Homo sapiens: one gene and its partner. The protein of the gene in region 1 interacts with the protein of each later gene in a pairwise test. Each region holds a gene or a part of one and is shown on either strand. Other genes may lie near its edges.

Region 1 (3,818 bases):
AATACAATGTAGTGCTATGTAAATAGTTGTTCTGTTACATTGTTTAGAGAATAATGACAAGAACAAAAATCTGTGTGTTCAGTATAGACACAACCATCCTTTTCTTTTTTTTTTTTTTGAGACAGAGTCTCGCTCTTGTTGCCCAGGCTGGAGTGCAAGGGTGCGATCTCAGCTCACCGCAACCTCCGCCTCCCGGGTTCAAGCAATTCTCCTGCCTCAGCCCCCCGAGTAGCTGGGATCACAGGCATGTGCCACCACGCCCGGCTCTTTTTGTATTTTTAGTAGAGACGAGGGTTCTCCATGTTGGTCAGGCTGGTCTTGAACTCCCGACCTCAGGTGATCCTCCCGCCTCAGCTTCCCAAAGTGCTGGGATTACAGACGTGAGCCACCATGCCCGGCACAACCATCCATTTTCAAATAATACCTAGATTATTTATGATACTTAATACATTTATGTGTTTGTAACACCTACTACAATGTAAATGCTATGTAAATAGTTATGCTACGTTATGTAGGGGAAGAATGAGAAAAAAAGTCTGTACATGTTCAAGATAGATACAACCATCCATTTTTTCCCCAGCATTTTCAATGCATGGTTGGTTAAATCCATAGATATGAAGTGTAATATGTATCAGGATGAGGAGCTCAATCACTTGCTGTCCTGTAGCTATCATTTCCCTGTAGTCTGTCCCTCAGAGAGCCTCACATATCTCACAGCAGGCATACTCTTCCTGACCCACCATCCTTATAAACGTGCAGTCCGTAGGATAAGGAGGGGATGTCCAGGTTGACCAGCCTGCTGATGTTTCTTGTTATCAGCACCATGTCCAGTGCTGCCCAACAGGCATCCTGCTGTCTTCAGCTGTCACTGGCATTGCTGCTTTTCTGCCACAGAAAGTAACAGGTGGCTCATGATTTAAGCATTGTAGAGGGTTGGAAGGAAAGTAAAGGATGCAGCTGGAAAGTTCTTCCTTTGTCTAACCCTATTGGTGCCACTTGGCCTACTATGCTCTGTGTATGCTCTGTGTATCTCTTCCATGCTGGTACTTTCACCTTCTGCTTCTCAGGGATTTCTCATCACTTTTGTGTTGAGTCCTGAGATTCAGCAACCTCCTTCTTATGGGACATCTCCAGGGTTAAATTGGGAAGTAAGATGATTTGTGTCCTCTTGAATTTAACTCCAAGTGCCATGGTGTATTTTTGTGCCTTTCATTAGCCAGTAAACACTTATAACCCAAAGTTACGATGATTTAGGTAGAAAATAAGCAAAATGATGTATTCTTTTTTCCCTAAGACTTTGTTATAACCTTGGAGTCATTAACAGCTTATTCTGGTTTTCTCATTGTCTGTTTGTTTGAAGAATGTGTACTATATAAAGAATTTATGCTCTTGAAAGAATTAAATTGACTCAGAATAGGCATTTGTATTTGTGAGTCTAAGATGATACACTAGAGGTCAGTTTTTTAAAGATGATTTGTTTTTTTCTTTTTTTTTCTTGACATTTAGAGTGAAGATGAAATCAGGACACTGAAACAGAAAAAAAGTAAGTGATAGTGTTAATGACTCAACTTCTGAATGCCTTTTAAAAAGGCCTTGACCTGGTAAGGACAAATAAATATGTTCTGTGTTGAAAACCTACCTTGAGAATGAATGTAGGAGTGTGCTCAATTTTGTCCTGTGTTTTGGAATTATCTATGAGACTAAAGTCTAATTTTAGTTTGTCTTTATTGAGTGCTGCAATGCCACACACTATGCTATATGCAGGCCTCATGGAGGTGACGCCTCCTCTCTCAGTGTGGTAGGGGTGGCAGGCACACAGTGCTCCATTGTAGGGAAGGAAGGGCAACAGTAGAGGCATGCACTGAATCTCTTTTTCTGTCCACCCAGTTGTGGTATGTAATAAATTCTTTGTAAATGTTTAAGGACTAAATGCTGTGGGGGCACATAGTGCCATTGTGAGTAGTGGTCACAACAGCCTTTCTGGAGGTGCTGATGTCCGAATTATGTCACCAAAGGACGAGGGCTAGAAGCTGTTTTTCTTCTTGTCAGTTATTAGTTACTCCTCCTCCTCTGTTTCTTCCTCCTATTGCTGTTATTATTAACGTAGCATTTTATTGAGTGCTTACTGATGCCAAATCATTGTTCTAAGTGCTTTACTTGTATTAATTAATTTAATTCTCACAATAGCCGTGAGATAAGTACTGTTATTTCCCTCTTTATGGATGAGGAGATATGGACTTGGGCAAAGAGAGGGAAAGGTATTCTGTGCACGAAACAGGGTGCTGTTTTGGGGAACTACACTCATTTTAGTGTTGTTAAAGTTTGTGATAACCCATTATGGTTAGAAAATAGCCTAGAGAGGACCCCAGAGGCCAGAACTTGCAGACTTGTGGGCTATTAGCAATAGGGAACCACTGAGGGGTTTATAAGTAGGTGATAACAGGGACCTGATTTCCATGGTACATAGAGTACTCTGTTGGATTAGAAAAGGTAACACTGGAGGCATGGAGGCTAGTTAGACTGTCAACTGACCAAATAAAAGTTGAAAGGCCTTGAATTAAGGCAATGGTAGAGAGAGTAAAGGGAATAGATTCAAGGAACTTAAGAAATTTGTATACCTATGACACCTAAAAAGATGTCCAAAAGAAGAGGGACTTGACTTTTCAGTTTGAACTCTTTGCTCTTTAATGAACTTCTTTTTGAAAAAAATAAAAGCAAGAGAATTAGTACTTGTTAATTGGAAGTGGAGAAATAATGGAGGAGAGAGGGAGGGAGCCAGACAGGCAGGCGTCCAGGATAACCTCTTGCTTTCTGGCTTGGGAAGCCTCCCTAGTATAGAACCACTGCTGTGTCACATATAATGAATAGCAGTGTCATCTGATTTGAGGAGGGGTGAAGGAAGGATGCTCCCTGCATTTTTCTGAACCCTTATGAAGCTCTGAAGCATGGCTCACACAGGCTCCGGTCAGACTAGATTTCCCTTTGTACTTGGGCAGCCTGCTTCCCTCTTCTACCTTAGTGCTTGTGCTAGAATAATTCTCACCAACTGAAATGCCCTCCTTGTTCATGTCCCCCTTATTTATCCTTGTCATCAAATGCAACTTCTGAATTTTTGTTTCTCCCCACCGCCCTCCATAGTCTTTTTTCTTTTTGAGACGGAGTCTCACTCTGTTGCCCAGGCTGGAGTGCAGTGGCACGATCTCGGCTAACTATAACCTCTGCCTCCTGGGTTCAGGCAATTGTCCTGCCTCAGCCTCCCGAGTAGCTGGGACTACAGGCATGTGCCACCACGCCCAGCTAATTTTTGTATTTTTAGTAGAGATGGGGTTTCACCATATTGGCCAGGCTGGTCTCAAACTCCTGACCTCGTGATCCACCCACCTCAGCCTCCCAAAGTGCTGGGATTACAGGCGTAAGCCACTGCACCCCCGGCCCTAGTCTTATGTTCTAAGAACTAGGTTTTAACTGTGCCTCCTCAGATTTGGATTATTTTCCTGCAGACACCACTGACCTGTATGACTATGGGCAGGGCATTTAGCCTGTAGGGCCTCAGTTTTCCTATCCCCTGTGAAGAGATTAGGCTAAGATGTGTGATATTCTAATACTAGCCCTAAGAGTTACATTAATCTCCTTTATATTATACTGGTTTGTACAGCTGTCCCATCTCCCATATAAATGTGTGGCATAATGGTTTGATAAAAACAGCATCAGCATGGATCTTGGAGCCAGACGCACTTGGATTTCAACTTTACTTCCATTCTTCTAACTGTATTTGTGATCTTGGGCAAGTTACTTAGTGTCCTTGTTTGTCAAGTGGG
Region 2 (3,269 bases), on another chromosome or scaffold:
AAGCAAGGGGATGTAGGCCCAAGGCTCCTGCTGGCACATGGGGGGATTCTCACCAGCCTCCACATCAGCGGGGTTGAAGCCATCTCGTAAGACATTGGGAGCTGCCCACTCAGTGCTGATCATGACATTGTGTCGAGGCTGGTACCAGAAGTCATAGCCCAACGGTGCAGCACCCCCAGGTCTCTCCCATGTCCCCTTCACCTCGAACGTCTCCCCATCCAGCAGCACAAAACCCCCTGAACAGGGAAGGAAGCAGGGTGGCAGGTAGAAGCAGTAGAGACACTAACCCCACCCTCCAGCCCTCTCCCCGAGGCATGTCTAAGAGGCTGTAAGCCCATTGCCTCTACCTCCACTGCTGGATTTGCCAGTTCCTTAAATTCAGGCATCCAGGGCTGGGGGAAGAGTGGCTCATGCCAGTAATCCCAGCCCTTTGAGAGGCTGAGGCGGGCGGATCACTTGAGGTCAGGAGTTCAGGATCAGCCTGGCCAACATGGTGAAACTCTGTCTCTATTAAAAATATAAAAAATTACCCAGGCATGGCGTCACATGCCTGTAATCCCAGCTACTCGGGAGGCTGAGGCAGGATAATCTCTTGAACCAGTGAGGCGGAGGTTGGAGTGAGCTGAGATTGCGCCACTGCACTCTAGCCTGGGCAACAGAACGAGACTCCCATCTCAAAAAAAAAAAAAAAAGAGAAAAGAAAAAGAAAAAAGAAAAGAAAAAGTAAATAAAAAATTCAGGCATCCAAAGGGTCTCATCCAGGTATTCAAATTTGGCCAGGTGGCAGGGGGGCCTTTACGCCAGTGCCCCTGTCTCCTGTCTACTTCATCTCTCTCTCAGACCACAGCAGAAACGTTTCTCCCACGAGATCTTCTGGGACTCAGCACCTGGTATTTCTCTTGTCCAGCCTCCCACTTTTGGAGTGGGATTCCTCCCAGAGTCTAAGCTCCATTCTGCTCACTACATTTTTTTGAGAGAGGGTCTCACTCTGACGCCCAAGCTGAAGTGCTGTGGTTCAATCACAGCTCATTGCAGCCTTGACCTCCCTGGGCTCGGGTGATCCTCCTACCTCAGCCTCTTGAGAAGTGGGGGTTATAGGCCTGTACCACCACACCCAGCTAATTTGTGTATTTTTAGTGCAGAGTTGCCAGTGCCAACTCTGTATTATCAGCAGACAACACAGAGATGGGGTTTCACCATGTTGGCCAGGCTGGTTTGGAACTCCTGAGCTCAAGCGATCCGCTGGCCTCGGCCTCTTGAAGTGCTGGGATTAGAGGAGTGAGGCACAACACCTGGCCTGTTTTGACTATAACTTTGAACTGAATTCATCAGTGAAGACTCATCTTAATAGAAATATTCAAAACTGAAGTTACTTGCTAACATTTAAAATACTGGCTGGGATCCAGCTCACTGGTTCTCCTTGGGAAGTCATTCCAACCCTCCCCTTCCATTCTGCTCCTCCCACAGAAAAATGCTTCCCACATTTCACAGCTGTGGAAGTTTTCATGAGCACACAGTGCTGGCAGGTACCTTTGCCATTGCCCTTGACGTCTCCCAGGGAGCTGATCATCACTTCCCCGCTGGCCAGGCAGTGGCTGGTGTGGAGAAAGGCCAGTTCGCACTTGGCATGGATGTCCTTGGGCTCAATGACCTGGAAGGGGTGGGGAATGGTGTCAGAATCATACAGGACTGGGAGTCCCTGCTCTTAACCTCCATACTTCCCCTACTTCTATCTGCTGACTCTGTCATCTTTTCCTTCAAAACATGGACACAACTCTCCCTGTGGGAATATGACAAAGATTCAGTCTGGTAACTTCTACAGAGCAGCAAGGGAAAGTCAGAGAGATTGCTAATAACTCCCCAGGCAGAAAGCGCTGACCTTTCCCCATGTGTCCTGAAGGCACACGCAGCCCTGTGAAACCATAAGCTCCTCCCAGGCTGGCCTACACCAGTGTCAACTCTGTATTACCAGTAGACAACACAGTAAATGCCTGGCACCAAAAGTGCACTAAACAAAGTGTTGGGAGAGACCGGAATTTTTAAGAGAACCCTGAGCTCCTAACTGCATGGGGGAATAAATGGCTCCCTCCCTCTCTCAGAGTAAAACAAGAAGCCTTGTCCCTCTTCTCCCATGCCCTGGTCACCGTGCTGGAGGGTGATGACCCAGAATGCCTGGGTAGACTCTGCTCTGAGGTCCAACCTCCCTCCCTGCTGCCGAGCCAGTTGCCGCGTAAGAGCTGGAGGCTGCTGGTTTAGGTCTGGCTTCCTGCCCGTAGACTACCTGGGGTGGCAGGTGTCTTATGGTCTACTGAGCTGGCAAGGGCAGAGGACATGCCTTGTGCAGCTTTGGGGCCCGGGGCTCAGAGCCCACGTCCACCACATAGATGCGAGAGGAGATGAGACTGGGCAGCACCAGCTTGGTGCGCGACTTGGTGCTATCACCGAAGCAGCTGCTGCAGGTGTTCCATCCTGAGTGATGCAGCTCGTCCTTCAGGTTGGGCATGGGCAGCCGGTGGATGACCTAGGATGCGGGGAGAGGTGGTGCTCCCCCAGGCCACGCCTCTGTCCACTTTTGGAAGAGGCGCCCTGTGGACTCATTTTGGTTTGGAAGCACGGCACAGGCTGGATTTCAGCACTCCCCTTGTCCCAGGTTGAGCGTGCACAAGCATCCCCAGGGAGGGCCAAGAAGGATGGAGCTGGGAAGGGGGGGCCCAGGGCCAGGGATGAGGGCAGCTATGGTCTCAAAGTAGCTGGCGCCCAAGCCCCGCCTAACCTGGCAATACTGGGGAGACTTGGGGTCAACATCCACAGTGGCCAGATAATCTGGGGCCTCAGTGCCTGTGTTTCGGTAAATGCAGGGCAGGTAGACGATCTCTTCCCTGGGTCCTGCACGGTAGAAAGCAGGCAGCAGGGACGGCAGGGTGGGAAGGAAAGGTAGGGGAAGTGCTGGGTGTGCCAGAGGGTGGGGGCTAGGTCTGAAGTCCCTCCACCCCCAGCTGTGGAATCAGTAGTAGGGCGCTGGCTCTCAGACCATGGGCAATTACCTTTCATGGCCTCCAGAGGGGTGGAGTAGCCGGGTCCACAATTCCCACATTTCGTAGCTGTGGAAGCAATGGGGCGCATTGGCTGGGCCACGCTCTGGAGGGTGAAGGCTCCCTCCGCACGTTCTGCAGCACACATCCCAGCGGGCCACGGCAGTGCGGCTGGCCTAGGTCCCCACTCCAGCCTCATCGCTCTGGCCTGTCCTCTCCGCCCCCTCAGAGCCCTGA

What was found.
Region 2: the proteins of THAP12 (region 1) and SELENBP1 interact in binary tests that used the Homo sapiens proteins (3 or more experiments, as listed by UniProt).

Annotation. Positions count from the first base shown.
Region 1 is NC_000011.10:76,353,343-76,357,160, reverse strand, and holds part of THAP12 (52 kDa repressor of the inhibitor of the protein kinase), read left to right. Parts: intron 1-1,506; coding exon 1,507-1,543; intron 1,544-3,818. UniProt on the Homo sapiens protein: Upstream regulator of interferon-induced serine/threonine protein kinase R (PKR). May block the PKR-inhibitory function of DNAJC3, resulting in restoration of kinase activity and suppression of cell growth.
Region 2 is NC_000001.11:151,366,669-151,369,937, forward strand, and holds part of SELENBP1 (methanethiol oxidase), read right to left. Parts: exon of another isoform or gene 3,232-3,269; coding exon of another isoform or gene 3,102-3,231; coding exon 3,045-3,101; intron 2,887-3,044; coding exon 2,774-2,886; intron 2,522-2,773; coding exon 2,336-2,521; intron 1,652-2,335; coding exon 1,531-1,651; intron 508-1,530; exon of another isoform or gene 348-507; intron 237-347; coding exon 54-236; intron 1-53. UniProt on the Homo sapiens protein: Catalyzes the oxidation of methanethiol, an organosulfur compound known to be produced in substantial amounts by gut bacteria. Selenium-binding protein which may be involved in the sensing of reactive xenobiotics in the cytoplasm.